2 separate regions of the Homo sapiens genome follow, and region 2 is linked to region 1. Evidence: fine-mapped expression QTL. Tissue or cell type: lung. Region 1 holds a variant in brackets; the other region holds the start of a gene. All regions are shown on one strand. Distances are from middle to middle.

Region 1 (8,100 bases):
GGCTGGTGCTGGCCGACTGAACGCTCAGAGCTTGGAGTCCCCCCACAGGAACAGCGAGGCTGAAGACAGGTGGAGGGCTGCAGAGGGTTGAGACTCAGCCCAGGGCTGGCACGCTGAGCTGTTCCACCACTCCTGCTCCCTAGAGCATGCCGGGACCACCATCAGGGCCGGCACAAAGCAGGAGAAGTGGGCTGCAGCCCACAGCGCACACAGATCCAGGAGCAGCTAGACCAGGCCAGGTGACTGCCCAGAAACACCGGCCAGCGCCACAAGGCAGCTGCCTTGATGGAGCCCCTCCTGCCAGCCCTGCCCCGGGAGCTGCTCTGAGTCTCTGCTGAGTTCTGATTTCCTGCGCAATCTCATCTTGCACTAGAAACCCCAGAGGCTTCCTTGAGTCCTCCCCATCACCTCCCTGCTGGTCCAGCAGCACAGCCTGTGATCTGCCTGACCCTGGAGGTCTGCCCCCGTCATCCACCCCTTTTCAAGGCAGAGAGTAGAGGGCCCTGGAAGGGGTCATCCTTCCTCCTCCAGGCCCCAGCCGAGTGCTGTGTGTACCTAGGAGACCAGGGGGACAGGCCCACCCACAGCCCAGTTCCAGCCGTAGACAGCAGCAAAGCACTGTCTGGTTTGTTCTTGGATCCCGGGGCCTGGGAGTCCTCCTGGGGTAGCTGGAGGAAGTCAGCTTCTTACAGATGGTGGCTCCCAGCTTTCCCTCCTCTCATATCAGCGTTGGCCTCACCTGGCATCTGCCCAGCCAGCAGGGCCATGACTTTTGGTTGAACTGGCCACCCCTGGATTTTGGGGAGGAGAGAAAGGATGTCCTGGGCTGCTTTTCTCCTCTCACCTTTTGTGTTCAGAGGCAGAGGTGTGCCCTGGTCCTCACTCTCTCCCCCACTGTTCTTCCCCTCCAGGCCCCTGCCTGCACCCTATCCTGCCATGTCCCTGGTGACCCATCCTTCCCGCCCACACCTGCCAGTGTGAGGCACACAGGTGGCAGGTGCTGGAGCCGGACCGGGCTGTTGGGCCAGGCTCTGACAGGACCCTCGGGACCAGCTCCTGCATACCCCACACCCCCACACCCTTTCCCATGCATGCCTCGCTTCAGTGGCTGTCTAGAGGTGGGTATTCTTTTTTGTGCAGTAAAATAGACATAACATAAACTGTTATGAACCATTTTAAGCTTTACAATTCAGTGACATTTAGCAGCTTCCCGATGTTGTGCAGCCCTTCCTCCTGACTAGTTTCGGAGCTTTTTCCTCACCCTATAGGCCTGGAGCAGTCATCTCCCGCCCCCCAGTCCCTGGCAGCACTCGTCTGCTTTCTGTCCCCATGAGTGTGCCTGTTCTGGACCTTTGGGGTGTGGCATCGTTCTCCATGGGAGATGGCAAGCTTTGTGGGGTCCAGGCTGTGCTCAAAAGCCTCTGCACCCAGCAGGAGTCGGTTGGTGGGCAGAGAACACAGGCACGTGCTTGAGCCAAGCCTGGGTCATGGATGGGATGTCCGAGAGGCCACCAGCAGCTGACCTGCCAGCGGGTCCCAGGGGAGAGTAGGTCACTATGTTAGCAGGTCTGCACCAGCAGTGCATCCAGAGGTGGTCAGGGGAGGCCCGGGGCAGGATGAGCCACTGTTATCTGGAAGCAGGTGTGCTCCATCCAGTCCCGAAGGGGCCATTAGCACAGACCTGTTTGCTCTGGCTGTGGAGTGTGAATGGGGAGGAAGGCTGATGGGCTCCGGGGCACTTGTTGAAGTCCCTTGCCTGAGCTGCCCCCTGCACAGCTGAACTTGGCCAGCTTTGGCTGGACCGCTACCCTCTGATGAGCCACAAGGCTGGTCTCGAGAAAGCCCACGGGGGTGGGCGAGGCGTGGATGGCCAGGCAGGGCTCGAACGGGCTTCACAGGACTGGGCTGCAGCCCTTCCTCCCTCCTGGCTGTGGGAGGAGACAGCCGAGCTTGTTAGGGCATCAGCGAGCTCCTGGTGTCGTTCACCAGTCACGGGATGGAACTGTGCTCCAGCGCACATCGGAATTGCCTGGAGTCTCCCAGGGCTCCCTCTGGGTCTTCTGAGGGGAGAGGCTCCTGTGTGCTCTGGTGTGGCGGGCACAGCCAGGCTAAGAAGCTGCATCCTGGCCTCGGAGTGTGGCTGTCGATCAGGAATCTTCCTCAACCTGGAGGTATTCCCAGGCTGGGCTAGGAGGCACCTGGAGGGGCAGGGTGGTCTCTGGAAGGTGGTCTGGGTGGGTGGGGTGCAGGCGGAGCCCTGGCTGAAGAAGCCTTACGACCAAGGCCTGGAGGAGTGAGCCGGCTCTTCAGATGGCTGGGCAGGGCCCATGAGTCCCAGGAGAGGGCGGCCCCCACTCACAGGCTGGGCAGCAGGGGCAGGGCAGGTGGGGACTCACCTCAGCGCTCTGTATACTAGAGGCCGTGGGGCAGGTGCAACCCTGTGGGACACCAGACTCACCCCAGAGCCCCTCTCCCCTAGGGAAGTCTGTTTTCAAAAACTCCCTGATGATTCTGAGGCCAGGCCTTTGGGGACTGTGGCCCTGGAGGAGGCTGGCACAGGTGGCCCTCTGTCCTGGTGACTACATGTCCTGGTCACTGCTGCATCCCACCCAGTGCCTGGCCGGACCTGCTCAAGGATGTGGTCAGGACAGGCCGGGGGTTGAGCGGCTGCATGAAGGAGGGAGGGCATGGAGCTGATGGGACAGTTTGCTTCCGATGGAGCAATGGAGGGCTGGGCGTGTGCAGCGTTCCATGGCAGAAAAAAGCGACTCCTGCTGTCTTGGCAGAACAGGCCAGAATTTTTAAAGAGTCTGTGGACTGGGAAGCCAAGTGTATTAGTTTCCTTCTGCTGTGTAACAAATTCCCACACACTTAGGGCTTAAACCACACAAACTTACTATGTGACAGTTTCTGTGTCCAGGAGGCTGGATGCGGGGGCGGGGTCTTTGCTTAGGGACTCCCCAGGCTGGAATCAAGGTGCCTGCTGGGTGTGAGCTCACCCAAGGCGTGGTCCTCCACTCTTTCGGGTTGCTGGCAGGACGCGGGTCCTTGAGGCCCAGCTCCTGGTGGCCTCCCCGCAGCACAGCAGGCAGCTCTGTGGCTTTGGCTTTTGGTCTCTCTGGCTTCTAGACCCTTTTGGAAAGGCCTACCCAGGGTCACCTCCCTTTTGATTAACTCAAGGCCAGCTGATTAGGACCTGAATTCTATTTGTGAAATCCCTTCACCAGAGTGATTTCCTCGAGGCAGGTGCCTGGGGTAG[C/T]CACTGGGCGGGGTCCATGAGGGCAGCTGGAGAGTAAGGGGTGGGGGGACACTTAGGACAGGGAAGCTGGCATAGGCTTTCCTGGGCACAAGGGCCCCCAGCTGCTGGGAAGGAAGGAGGGAGAGGGGCTGCAGTTCGGCAAGAGTGGGTCCAGGCCCTGGTAGACCAGGCTGGTCTGGCACCTGAGGGGCTGTGGCTGGGAAGGAGGGAAGAGGCACCCTCCCCATCCCCAAAGCACACACGGCCAGGAAGTCTGGAAGGAGAGTGGGTGTCAGCCTGGGATTCCCAGGTGCTAGGGGTGCTGGGATACTGCTGCCTGTTGTCCTTGGCCTGCCCGTGAGGCTTGAGCCTATCCCACTGTTTACAGGTCGTGAGGAGGCAGGAGAGCCATCCTGCCCCTCCTGCTTTCTACCATCTGCTTCCCTGTTTGTAAAACAAGACAGACTCTCTCTCAGCTATTGATGGGTTCTGGAAACACTTTGGAAAGGTGACGTGTTATTCAAATGCTCAGAATTAGTGCAGCGTCAAAGCCCGAAATTCAAGCCCTTTGATGGTCTCGGGGGTTGCATAGATGAACATTTTTTGTTTTAGTAGTTACATGCTTATTTTAATATGTCTTGGAAAAGAAATGAGCCCATCAGACGACTCATTTCATGGCTAGCGTCGTGTAGCTGAGATGGAGTGGAAAGAGCGAGTCACTCCAAGCCTGGGGTGAAGGATGTGGAGTACATGGCACTCAGGCCACACATGGATGTGGACGACGTTGCGGAGACACCCCAGGATGATCAAAGTCAGGGAAGTGTTTCTGGTCGGCTGCAGATAGAAACGGGACAGGCCTGTCCCAGGTGGGGCCGTGTGCCTCTGGCCTGGTGTGTGGCCCAGGACTGCTGGCTGGGGACAGGGCGGGGACACTGAGGGCAGTGATGCCCCCTCCCCACCTCCACCCCAGGGTTTCCGGGATTTTATGGGAGCAGAGTGCAGACAGCCTCAAATCACATTAATGACTGAAGGTTCAATCCAGGTCTTAAAAATAGAACCCAAGGCAAATGAATGAGTCTCCGTTCCCCACCCCTAGTGCGGAATACTTCCAAGGGAAATTGCGTCCTATATTACCTCATTCTGTTAGGGAGCTTGTGGTCACAGAGCTACTCATCCATCCACTAATTTTCCCTGTGGAATGGACGGACTGTGCTTTCCTGGCTTAATGGAGGAGCTAGAACACTGTCGATTGCCTAATTCGGGCCATGAGATTCCAGTAAACCTGGAATCTAGAATCAGAGTGTATTTGACTGGGTAAGGGGCCACTTGGTGAGAACGCCAGGGAGGAGCTCAGCCCAGTTCCTCTGCCGACTCTGAGCAAATGACCCACAGAGCATTGTGCCAGGAGCCAGCCCAGGCTGTCATCTCAGAGAAAGGAAAGGAAAGGCCCCAGGACTGGGGCCGTAGGCGGAGGAGCAGCTGGGGGACTGAGGGTCAGGTCTGGGGCAAATCTGGGGCCTCTCCCACCCGCTCCCTGGCCCCGGATCTGCCCTTCATCAGGAATCTGCTTCCAAGCAGATCTGATTTGCCTACTGAGCCATGCCCCCAGGGAAGCTGGGCCCTGAATGAGCTGGGCTTTTGGGCCACACCAGAGGGAGGAAGTTCCCTTTCATCTGCTGCCTGCTTGTGTGATGCAGATGAATTCTGGCAGAGGAACCCTGAGCATGGGGTATGGACCCAGGCCTGGCTCGGGTCTCCGCAGGAGGGGGTAAGAGCGACAGAGTCTCCGTCCAGAGTGACCCTCCAGCGTCTCGGGCCTGGCCTCTGCGCCCACCCCCTATTGCAGCACCTGGATGGGTCTCCCTGGTTCTGCATTTTCCACAGCAGGCAGAGTGCATTCCAAACCCTGCCGGGCCGAGGCCTGCACCTTCCCTGCTCCATGCCCTGCCCCAGACTCTAAGGCACACCTCCCTGCTATTTCCTCTTTCTGGAATGCTCTCCCCTGTTCGCCCCTCCCAACCCCTGTCTGTTTTCTGGTCCCCACTGCAGTGGCAGCCAAGGAGCCAGATGCTTGCAGGGGAGCCATGCTCCTGAGCAGGGCCGGCACCCTTCCTTTCCCTCCCACTCCACCATCTGCAGGCAGGAGAGTGGAGGGTGCCAGGCAGGGGAGAAGGTGTGCCTGGATCGTGGCACCACACTGGGTGTGCATGTGGCCACCTGATTCCATGGCAGCCCGTGACCCTGAGCCAATCCCAGAGGCTCGGCCTGGAGCTGCGGGGTGACCCTGAGCCCGGGCAGCAGCAGGATCAGGGCAGGGCACTGGTGGGTGGAGAGCTGGGGGTATGGGCAGCATGACCGGCAGTGGGTTTGCCCTGACACCCGAATGCCGCTGTTTAACAGGTCGGTGTGCCCGCCTCTGCCACCGGGTCCTGGTGGCTTTGTCCACAGGCCCTTCTCCCTTTCTCCCTGGCTCCTTCTCTGCTCTTGGGGATGGGAGGAGAAGGAAGGAGCGGCTACTGCTTCTCTCCAGTCGATGAATATGCACTAAACATCCATTCTGTGGCCTGGGCCAAGTGCTGGGGGGATACGCAGGGAAGGAGGAGCAACTTCTGTTCCCCAAGAGCTCCCAGTCAAGCTGGAGGAAGGAGTTCCAGGGAGGCATAAAGACATGTCTGTATGTCCTTAGCTCAGCATAAGGAGTTTCACAACAATCTGAATTCACCAATGAATGGAACGAGTGGATGAAGATGGGGGCTTCAATCTGCTTGAAAGAGCCTAGCAAACAAAGATACTTCATGGTGGATGGATGGATGGTTGTGTGGGCAGATAGAGGATACATTGATGGATGGAAGGATGGATAGCTGGACAGATGGATGGATGTGTGGGTGCATAGAGGATAGATGGATGGAGGAAGGATGGGTGGTGGGGTGGATGGTAAGCTGGCCCTGCTGGGAGATGCCGTCTACAGACTGGGTGTGAAAGGCGCTGCCCTGCGTGAGGTAGCAGATCTCCATGTCTCTTCTGTGTTGTGATTATTGTGAGCATGGGAAGAGCACATTTGGTCACACATGTCCGTGCTCCCACACACAGCCTTTCCTGTGAGTGTGCCTCTCATCTAGCACCCAGGGCCCCCTTCCCACCAGCGCCCGCTCCCCTGTGATGAGGCCTGGGTACATCAGCACATGCCTAGCCCCTGTGCCCTCCCTGCACCAGCCCCTCAGTTCTCCGGAGCCAACTGGAGAACCTGAGCCTCTAGACCCACTGCTGTCATAGTCACCCCCTTTTGGTCACGCCACTGCCTTTTCTTTTTTTCTTTTTTCTTTTGATACTAAGTCTCGCTCTATTGCCCAGGCTGGAGTGCAGTGGTGTGCAAACTCCGCCTCCTGGGTTCAAGCGATTCTTGTGCCCCAGCCTCTCAAGTAGCTGGGATTCCAGGTGCCCACCACCACACCCAGCTAATTTTTGTATTTTGGGTAGAGACAGGGTTTCACCATGTTGGCCAGGCTGGTCTTGAACTCCTGACCTCAGGTGACCCGCCCACCTCGGCCTCCCAAAGTGCTGGGATTGCAGGCGTGAGCCACCACACCTGGACCCCACTACCTTTTTACAAGGCCTTCAGTGGTTTGGCCCCAAAGGGAGCCTAGTGGGGGAATTCAGGTGTGGAGGAGGACATTAAGGGCCCCCAAAGTGCCTTTAAATGCAAGTCAAGCCACCCAGGATGTGGCCAGACCCACAGGGGCTGTGGAAGCGCAATCCCTAGCACAGAGCATGCCCCAGGCCTCGGGGCACTGAGTCTGTTGGGGAATGGGACACCTGGGCCTGCCCTGCAACCTGGCACCTGCGTCTTTCCTGAGCCTCACTTTCCTCCATAGTATGAGTTGCTCATTGGACAGGATGAGAGTTTGCAAGCTGGTGGCCTTCGGGCTGAATCCAGCCTGCTCACATGCAGGGTCTAAAGTGGCTTTCATGAATTGTCTATTTCTAAAAATTAGGATATTTCACATACGAGTCAGGATTTCTGGCTTCTCTTGAAAAAATTTAAAAATCTGACAGGCCTGGGCCCCTCCCTGTTACTGTCACCCACCTCCCAGGTGGACTGGACCCCACCTGCTGCCTGCCTGGCCTGGCAGCCCTGGGCTGGCTACTCTCTAAGGGTCCCTGGGGAGAGGGCGAGAAGATGAGGTCGGCCTCCTCCCGGGCTGTGACATCCTCCCTGGCCATGACGTCCTCCCTCTCCATCCCCTGCCCACAGCTTCACGCAGGCCATGCTGAGCCAGCCCAGGATGGAGAGCCTGGACACCCCCGCGGCCTACAGCCTGGGCCTCGCGCTCCTGGGACTGGGCGTCGTGCTCGTGCTCTCCAGCTTCTTTGCACTGGGGTTCGCTGGAACTTTCCTAGGTAAGACCCTGAGGGCTGGGGTGACCCTGAGCAGGACCGCTGGAGCCCCAGGGAGGTGCAGGGCCAGGTGGCTGCTGCCCTGCTATCCGTGACATCGGTGGGAGTGCTAGGGGCCCCCTCCATCGGGGCGTCTTTGCTCCTCCAGGCCTGGCTTGTCTGTGGTTAGAACAGGAGGCTGGGCTCCAACAGCTCCTCTTACCCCAGCGTGCTGAGCGGCTGCCTCCTGGGGAGTGAAGGCAGCTCCTGCTGCTTCTCTCCAGCTAATGAAGATGCACTCAATGCCCGTTCTGCGGCCCGGGCTGGGTGCAGGACTCCTTGAGTCCAGCTCCAGCACCAGCTCCCCCTTGCAGAAGACTCTCAGGCCTTGTTGCACAGAAGCCTGAGGTGGTGGTGAGTCAGCCACCTCTCTGGCAGCTCCCGGCACGCGTGGCTCTCAGGCCAGGCAGGATTGTGGTTTGTGCCGT
Region 2 (8,100 bases), 77 kb before region 1:
GGCATGGTGGCATGCACTTGTAGTCTCAGCTATTCCGGAGACTGAGTCAGGAGGATCGCTTGGGCCCAGGATTTTAAACCCAGGGGTCTCTTAAAAAAAAAAAAAAAAGCCAGGGGTGGTGGCTTATGCCTGTAATCCCAGCACTTTGGGAGGCTGAGGCAGGTGGATCACCTGATGTCAGGAGTTTGAGACCAGCCTGGCCAATATAGTGAAACCCTGTCTCTACTAAAAAATAGAAAAATTAGCTGGGTGTGGTGGTGCGCACCTGTAGTCCCAGCTACTCCAGAGGCTGAGGCAGGACAATTGCTGGAACCCGGGAGGCAGAGGTTGCAGTGAGCCGAGATCACGTCACTGCACTCTAGCCTGGGCGACAGAGCAAGACTCCGTCTCAAAAAACAAACAAACAAAAAATCTCTGCCCTGGTGAAGTTCCCCTTATAGGGGATAGGGGATGGACAGGGAATGACACTATACAAAATAAATAAGTGCACTAAATACATTTGTTAAATGATATGGCCAATGGAGAGAAATAAAGTTGGGAGAGGCCCATGGCGAGCATGGGGAAGTCAGCATGTTCAACAGGGTGGAGAGGTGGAACTTGAGCAGAACCCAGAGGAGGTGAGGAGGGTACTGGGAGGAAATGCGGGGAAGAGCAACCCAGGCGGAGGACATAGCACATGAAAATGCCCTGTGGTGGGTGTATACCTGGGGTGTTTAGGACCTCTGGAGGCCAGCTGGAAGGCAGGGGTTTGTGCTCTGTGGACACTGTGGACACTGAGGGGCAGTGAGGCCCTGCCAGCACCAACATCCTTGCTGGTGTTTCCCAGGCTGGCCTAGGCTGTGGACAACTGGGTTCAGGTAACTTCACTCCCGTGCCCTCTTCCCAGCAAGTAGTAGGTCCTTGGGGAAGGGGCTTCTTCCAAAGCTCAGGGCAGATGGGAGTGGGGAGGGAACTCGTGATCAGGGCACACATCTCCAGATGACCTCTCCCCTGCCCCAGTTCCCACCCTGGCTACCCTCTTGTTCCTGGAGCCACCAGGGGTAGAATGAGGGCAATCAGGCCTGAGTCTATGAAGTGGGTGCTGGGCATTGCGGCCACAGCCCCTCACCACCTTCCTGGTTTTAAAGCACTCCCAGTGACAATATGGTTTCTGATAACCTGCAGTACCTGCTGTCTGGGGAGCAGCTCTGGCCACCCATCCTGGCCCCTGCCCACCCATCTCCTCCCAGGAACTCTGGCAGGTCCCTGAGCTGTCAGCCAGCTCTCCTGGCCCCCAGTGGTGTCCTAAATCCCAGCAGCATGTCCATGAGTGTGACCTTAACCACCAGATCTCAATTATATAGAAAGGAGAGAAACATTTTTTTCTTTCTTTTTTTTTGGAGACAGGGTCTCACTCTCGTCACTTAGGCTGGAGTACAGTGGCACAATCACAGCTCCCTGAAGTCTCTCTCTCCTGGGCTCAAGTGATCCTGCCGCTTTAGTTTCCCGAGTAGCTGGGAGTACAGGCACGTGCACCACACCCGGCTAATTTTTTTTTGGTATTTTTTTTTGTAGAGATGGGGTTTTGCCATGTTGCCCAGGCTTGTCTCGAATTCCTGGGCTCATGCAATCTGCCTGCCTTGGCCTCCCAGAGTGCTGAGATTACAGGCATGAACCACTGCGCCTGGCCTGGACATTTTCTTAGAACCCACTGTATGCCAGGCACTTTTGTACGAGTTATTACCTCTAATCCTCACAACAGCCTCACTCGAGATATTATACTCAAGAGATATTCTATGATATAAATATTATTATGTTTTATGAACAGAAAATAGATTCAGAGTAGGGAAAGGTTTAGGTTTTACCCAAAGGCACCCAATAAACACATGTTAATTTTAGCACTAAAACCCCATTTTAATGATTGCTGGGAGTTTCTGCAGCCTGATTCATAATTCAGGAGCCAGGGAGGTGGGGTTAGAGAAAAGAGAGGCCATCAGGAGGTTTGCCCTGGGAGCTGTTCCATGATAAATGGTTTCCTATATCTGAAGAGCTCAATCAAGGGGCAAAGAGAGATAACCCTGAAGGTAGAAAGGAACTTTTGTTTGTTAAAGCTTCAGGAAGGGTGACTTTGGGTTAATGGGTATCATGACTTTGGGTTAATGGACCCCTGTCCATCAGTGGAGCGGGCGACCTCAAGAGGTGGGGAACCTCTCATCACTGGCGGCACGTAAGCAGAACCAACTTTTCCATTTGCCCAAGATGCCACAGAAGGAATGTTTCAGTGAGGGAGGTTGGCCTGGATAATTTCTCTACAAGCTCTCAGACTTGGGAACTTTTGAAAGGCTCAGGCAAGTACTTGTGCCCCAAAGTATCTTTGGCAGGGTTTTTTATTTTTATTTTTTTAGATGGAATCTCTGTCGCCCAGGCTGGAGTGCAGTGGTGCAATCTCGGCTCACTGCAACCTCCACCTCCCAGGTTCAAGTGATTCTCCTGCCTCAGCCTCCTTAGTAGCTAGGATCACAGGTGTGCACCACCATGCCTGGCTAATTTTTGTATTTTTAGTAGAGACGGGGTTTCACCATGCTGGCCAGGCTGGTCTCGAACTCCTGACCTCGTGATCTGCCCGCCTTGGCCTCCCAAAGTGCTGGGATTCCAGGCGTGAGCCACCATGCCCAGCCTGGCCCAGGCTGGAGTGCAGTGGCGCGATCTCGGCTCACTGCAGCCTCCACCTCCTGGGTTCAAGCAATTCTCCTGACTCAGCCTCCTGAGTAGCTGGGATTACAAGTGTGCACCACCATGCCTAGCTAATTTTTGTATTTTTAGTGGAGACGGGGTTTCACTGTGTTGGTCAGGCTGGTCTTGAACTCCTGACCTCATGATCCGCCTGCCTCGGCCTCCCAAAGTGCTGGGATTCCAGGTGTGAGCCAGGCAGGAGGTTTTTATCTGACTTGTTTCAAGCTGCAAGTCTGTCTCCTGGGTGGGGTGTTTGCTTTTCACAGAGGAAGGGTGGCCCAGGTTGGGTAGGCTGGAGTAGAGGATCGGACTGCATCAGTTCTGGTGTGACCTCTTACGGTTGCCTTACTTTGTTCTCAGATAAAGCAAACGCACAAAAATTTGTTTTCTGGGCTTAACAAAACAGGAGTGACCAGTTAGGTCAGAAGACTGGAACATCAGTGAAGTGGATGTGTGGTAGGCGGAGGGGAAAGACTTGCTAGAAGCCCTCCCGCTGCGGGGGGCTCCTTCAGAAATGGCTCTGCCTCTAGCAGCTCTGCCTGGACACTGAGCAGGGAAAGGGTCCCGACACTCATTAGTAACAGTGGTAAGTCAGAGAACCAGCCCTGAGCCTGTGTCCCCAGCCCTGCCGGGGGCCAATGCCTACTGAGCACTTCCCACAGGCCAGTTCCTGGGTGATGAGTTTTACCAACATGTATTTCCCTTTTACTTTTGAGGAAAATGAAGGTGGGCTCAGTCACAGAGATAGTGCATGCTCCAAAGCCAGTGTCTTTCCTGTCTCCTCGGTTGGCCTGCCCCATCCTAGCGATGTTGTGAAGATTGGGACTACCTCTAAAGCAGCACACAGTGGCTGCTCAGTAAATGCTCAACACTGGTAGGTGCTGTGGGCCAAGGTGGAGAGAAACGGGCCATCTGGAGCAGGAAGCAGCTGACTGCAGAAGTCCTGTCTGGGCCCCCAGCAGTCTGGGTGACTGAGCAAATCTTGGAACCTCTCAGTCTATTTCCCCATATTACATAACACCTGGCTACAAAAGGGCTTTTTTCTTTTTTGAGAGGGAGTCTCGCTCTGTCGCGCAGGCTGGCATGCAATGGCACCATCTCCGCTCACTGCAACCTCCACCTCCTGGGTTCAAGCGATTCTCCTGCCTCAGCCTCCTGAGTAGCTGGGATTACAGGTGCGCGCACCACACCCGGCTATTTTTTGTATTTTTAATAGAGACGGGGTTTCACCGTGTTAGTCACGCTGGTCTCGAACTGCCGACCTCTGGTGATCCGCCCACCTCGGCCTCCCAAAGTGCTGGGATTACAGGCATGAGCCACCACACCCGGCCTACAAAAGGGGTTCTTCTGGGACCCGATCGTCTAAACTCTTCTCCATTTGACCCCCTCCATCACTACTCCACAGCTCACCGGTCTTTTCTCTGTTCCTTAGGTGCCCGTCCTGTCTCCAGGCCTTTGTACATACCATTCGTCTTGCCTTGTTTGCCCTGCCCTCACACTTGGCACATCTGGCACCTCCCCTGCACATTCTAAGACAGCATCCTTCCGTACCATTTGACCCACCCCGTTTTTTCCACCACAGTACTCATCCATATTATAACCCTTTATTCACATTTTGTCTTTTATCTCAGTCAGGAGGAAGCGAGGGCGGGGGACTCTGTGTTGTTCCCTACCGTACCCTCAGCGCACAGTCTGGTTCAGAAAATACTCGAGAGTGAATGAGAGAATGAATGAAGGAAAAAATGAGTGGAGGAGGGGTCTTTGGCCGAGCTAAAGAGCCTGGGCGCCGCGGGGGCGGGAAGCTCTAGGCAGTGCTCGTCGCGCACCGCCCCCAGAGTAAAGCGAATTTCAGAAGAGGGCGTGGGGCCCTGGGCGTGTGGGGCCCTGGGCGTGTGTGACCCGGGCCAAGTCCAAGTCCGCAGGAGGCTGCGCGGGAAGCTGCTTATAGCTACGACCCGCGGCCCCCGGCCTCTAGCCCCACCGCCGCCAGGCAAGGGCAGGGACGCCAGGTCAGTTACAGGCTCGGGTGCGGCAGCCGGCGACCAAAGGCACTGGGCGGGAGGCCGGATCCAAGGGGATACTGCTACGTAGCTGCAGCGGAACCGGCAGGCTCTGCGGCGAAACACACTGGGACTTGTAGTTCTCGGCTCCTCTAGACGCTGTCGCGAGCCCCCAGATAAAGAGGCACTTCGCGGTGACGGGGAACTACATTTCCCAGAAGGCCGGAATATGTTGGGGGTCACCGGGAAAGCGCCCCGACTGGCGGCACTTACCCGGCTCTATAGGTCCGGTTCCGGGGGCGCGTGGCTGCAGCGGGGCCCGCGTGGTGCCTCCTGAGGCGGCCCCCGGATGAAGAGATCTGGGAACCCGGGAGCCGAGGTAACGAACAGCTCGGTGGCAGGGCCTGACTGCTGCGGAGGCCTCGGCAATATTGATTTTAGACAGGTACTGACCGCACCGGACCGCCGCGGAAACTGGGAGAGGGATCTGCAAGGCCCGAGGGGCGTGAAGGCTTGCGGCGCCTCAAACGCTGCGGGGCGGGGCCGCCAGTTCCCAGGCAATGGGGGCGTGGCGTGGCGGGGGTGGGGGAGCCGCGTGCGGGAGCGCCGGCTGGTGTCTGTGTGTGTGCGTGTGCGCGCGCGTGTAAACCTCAGATTGCGTGTGTCAGAGACGGGGGCGTTCCTGAGCTCGTCTGATTGTGTGCCTGTGTGTGGCCCTGAGATTGTGTGAGACTCAGAGGTTGTCCGTGTTAGTCTTTGGGATTGTGTCTCACTGAAATTATGTGATGCTCTGAGAGTGTGCCGGAGAGTGAGTGTGAGTGTGTATGACCGAGGCTGTGTGTGACTGAGCGTGGGCGAGGGTGAAGGAGGCCGATTATATGTTTGGGAGTGTGTTGTGTGGCCCCTGCTCCCGTCCATCCCCCAGGGTCAGGAGGCCAGCTTTTGCCCAGAGGCAAGAGAGTGGTGGGGACCCTGCCTGTCTCCCAGCCGGCCCTGGGCAGGCTGCAGACCACCACCCAGCCGTTTCGGGGCCATAATGGGTGCGACCGGCCCCAGAAGCTGGGGGCCTGGCTTGCCTGCTGAGGCTGCCCTCTGCAGAGTCCTAGGCCAGAGAGTGCCTGTCCTGGCATCTCCCCAGGCTCCCAATTCCAATGGATTCCAATTTCCAACCTCTCTTGCATTCTCCCTTCTATCAAAGCTTCCTCTTAGATGCTCCATTTACCTTTTTCATCACCCACTCTTCATGAAGCCTGTAAGGCACATCTCTGCCCCAAGCAGCTTCTAATCCAGTTCTTTCGCTCCCTTCATTCCTTACTCACATGTGCATTTATTCACTCACTGATCCAGCCAGTATTGATTCAGGGCCGGCTGAGGGCCTCGTGTCACTCAGAAGTTTAAGGGCACTTCTGTCACTGAGCTTTCATTCTAGGGAGGGAGATTGTAGGCCTGGAAAGCCAGAGAGTTCTCTGAAGGAGCTAATACCAGTTAGTGTTTTGAAGAGTAGCTGATGGGAAGGCGGGATTGAAATCCCAAGAGAGCCTGTTGCCGTATCTGCGAGGGAGGGACCTGGGATCTGAGAGCCGAAAGGTCAGTCAGTGGGGCAAGATTCCCCAGAGGAGGGAGGCAGTTGCGAAGCCCTCCAGGAGGCACAGGAGGAGATGGGCCGCTGGCCCTGAGGGAGCGCAGGACCGTTGGCCAGATGGGTGCTCAGCAGAGGACAGGAAGAAGACTATTACTTTAGTAAACTGTCCATTGAATTACAACATGCAGTCAGATGAGTGATGGGTCCTACCCCTACAGCTCCTGCATTTTCACCAGGTGAACCTGTATCTGTTAATCCTCAGATCAAGATGGGGGGTCATGATCACCTCCAGGGGCTGCCCTCAGAAGCCACCGTGTAGAAGGGTGGGTGGGGGAGCCATGTAGAAGGGGGGGCAGAATGCAAGGGGGCAGTGTCCCTTTGCAGACCCATCTAGGGGCCTGCCCCAGGGCCTGCCAGTGGGCAGGGGAGACTAACCGGGTGTGTGAGGGGTGGGCTTCTCTGCTCTTTCTCCTTTCTCCCCAGGGCTGTGCAGCTGGAGAGAGCTGGGGCTGGGGTTCGGGTCAGGGTGACCCTTGTTGACTAACATTCTGCTTTTCTTCTGCTGTCCTTGTTGGTGCAGTTAAGCTTCCTGTTGCCAAGGGATTTTTCTTAAAGAAAGAAAGAAAGAAACATACAACATACAACATTACATATTTGCTTATGTGGTAGCTCTACTCCCTCCTCAATCAAAATCTCCGGTTTTAAAATATGTCAGTCCCTGGCCTGGGAGAGTTGCAAGGTTTTTGTTCACCCCATGGGCGTCTGAGCTGCAGGATCTCCGGTGCTAGCCCTGTGCTGCTGTGCTGTCCAGTAGAAACATCGTGTGCCACATGCATAATTTAAACCTTTCTAGTAGCCATGTTAAATTAGTGAGAAGAAATGGAAAATAGCAAAGAAATAGAAAAATAATTTTGACAATATATTTTATTGTTACCAAAATATATATCAGACATATTTTGTCCTGTGGCATTCCAAGCTTGTGGCACTGCCTGTGACCAGTGGCTGCCATGTCATACCAAACAGTGCTGCTCTGGGTACCATGCCCTCCACCAGCTCTTTTCTGGGCCTGCTTCAGCAGGTACAGAATCTTGCTTTTGTTTTTAAAAAAAAAAAAAAAAAAATCAGCTGTTGGGGCTGGGCACGGTGGCTCACGCCTGTAATCCCAGCACTCTGGGAGGCCAAAGCAGGTGGATCACCTGAGGTCGGGAGTTTGAGACCAGCCTGACCAACATGGAGAAATCCCATCTCTACTAAAAATATAAAAAGTTAGCCAGGCGTGGCGGCACATGCCTGTAATCCCAGCTACTCGGGAGGCTGAGGCAGGAGAATCACTTGAACCCCGTAGGTGGAGGTTGCAGTGAGCTGATATCACGCCATTGCACTCCAGCCTGGGCTAGAAGAGCGAAACTCTGTCTCAAAACAAAAACAAACAACCCAAAGAATCAGCCATTGGGCTGAGGAGTTAGGGTGAGGAGTGTGCCCGCTGCAGCCCCACTGACTAAGGCCCTTTTGCTCCTTGTTGCCCTCCCTGTCAGGATTCTGGAGCCTTGCTCCTCAGCTGGGCAGCTGCCTGAAGGCAGTGGGGTGGCAGATGGATGAGAGCAGGGTCTGCATCTTGCTGTCCACAGGCCGGGGCACCTCCAGGATTCAGAAGATGACTCCAGTAGGGCCTAGGGGTGCGGGCACCCAGGCTGGCAGAGCACACTGAGGTCCTCAGAGCAAGGGCACATGCCCAGGTCTCAGGTCCCTTTTCCATAGCGAATCACCTGCTCACCAGAGCGGGTGAGTGATGATGTCTCCAGCTTG

What was found. PIP is the estimated chance that this variant, and not a neighbour inherited with it, causes the effect.
Region 2: it holds the start of PEMT, and the variant in region 1 is fine-mapped to the expression of PEMT in lung (TOPMed, PIP 0.94).

What each region holds. Positions count from the first base shown.
Region 1 is chr17:17,512,045-17,520,144 of GRCh38, reverse strand. PEMT (phosphatidylethanolamine N-methyltransferase) reads left to right here. Exons shown (of 7, transcript NM_148172.3): 4 at 7,491-7,636. Among named protein-coding and RNA genes, the nearest start is that of RASD1, 20 kb to the right of the region's middle. RefSeq lists enhancers at 2,197-3,066, 3,937-4,806, 5,677-6,546, 6,547-7,416. The variant C/T (reference allele first, on the strand shown) is at 3,260.
Region 2 is chr17:17,588,588-17,596,687 of GRCh38, reverse strand. It overlaps PEMT (phosphatidylethanolamine N-methyltransferase), which reads left to right and starts at 4,980. Exons shown (of 7, transcript NM_148172.3): 1 at 4,980-5,157. The coding sequence starts at 5,062. RefSeq lists enhancers at 4,839-5,228, 4,794-5,535.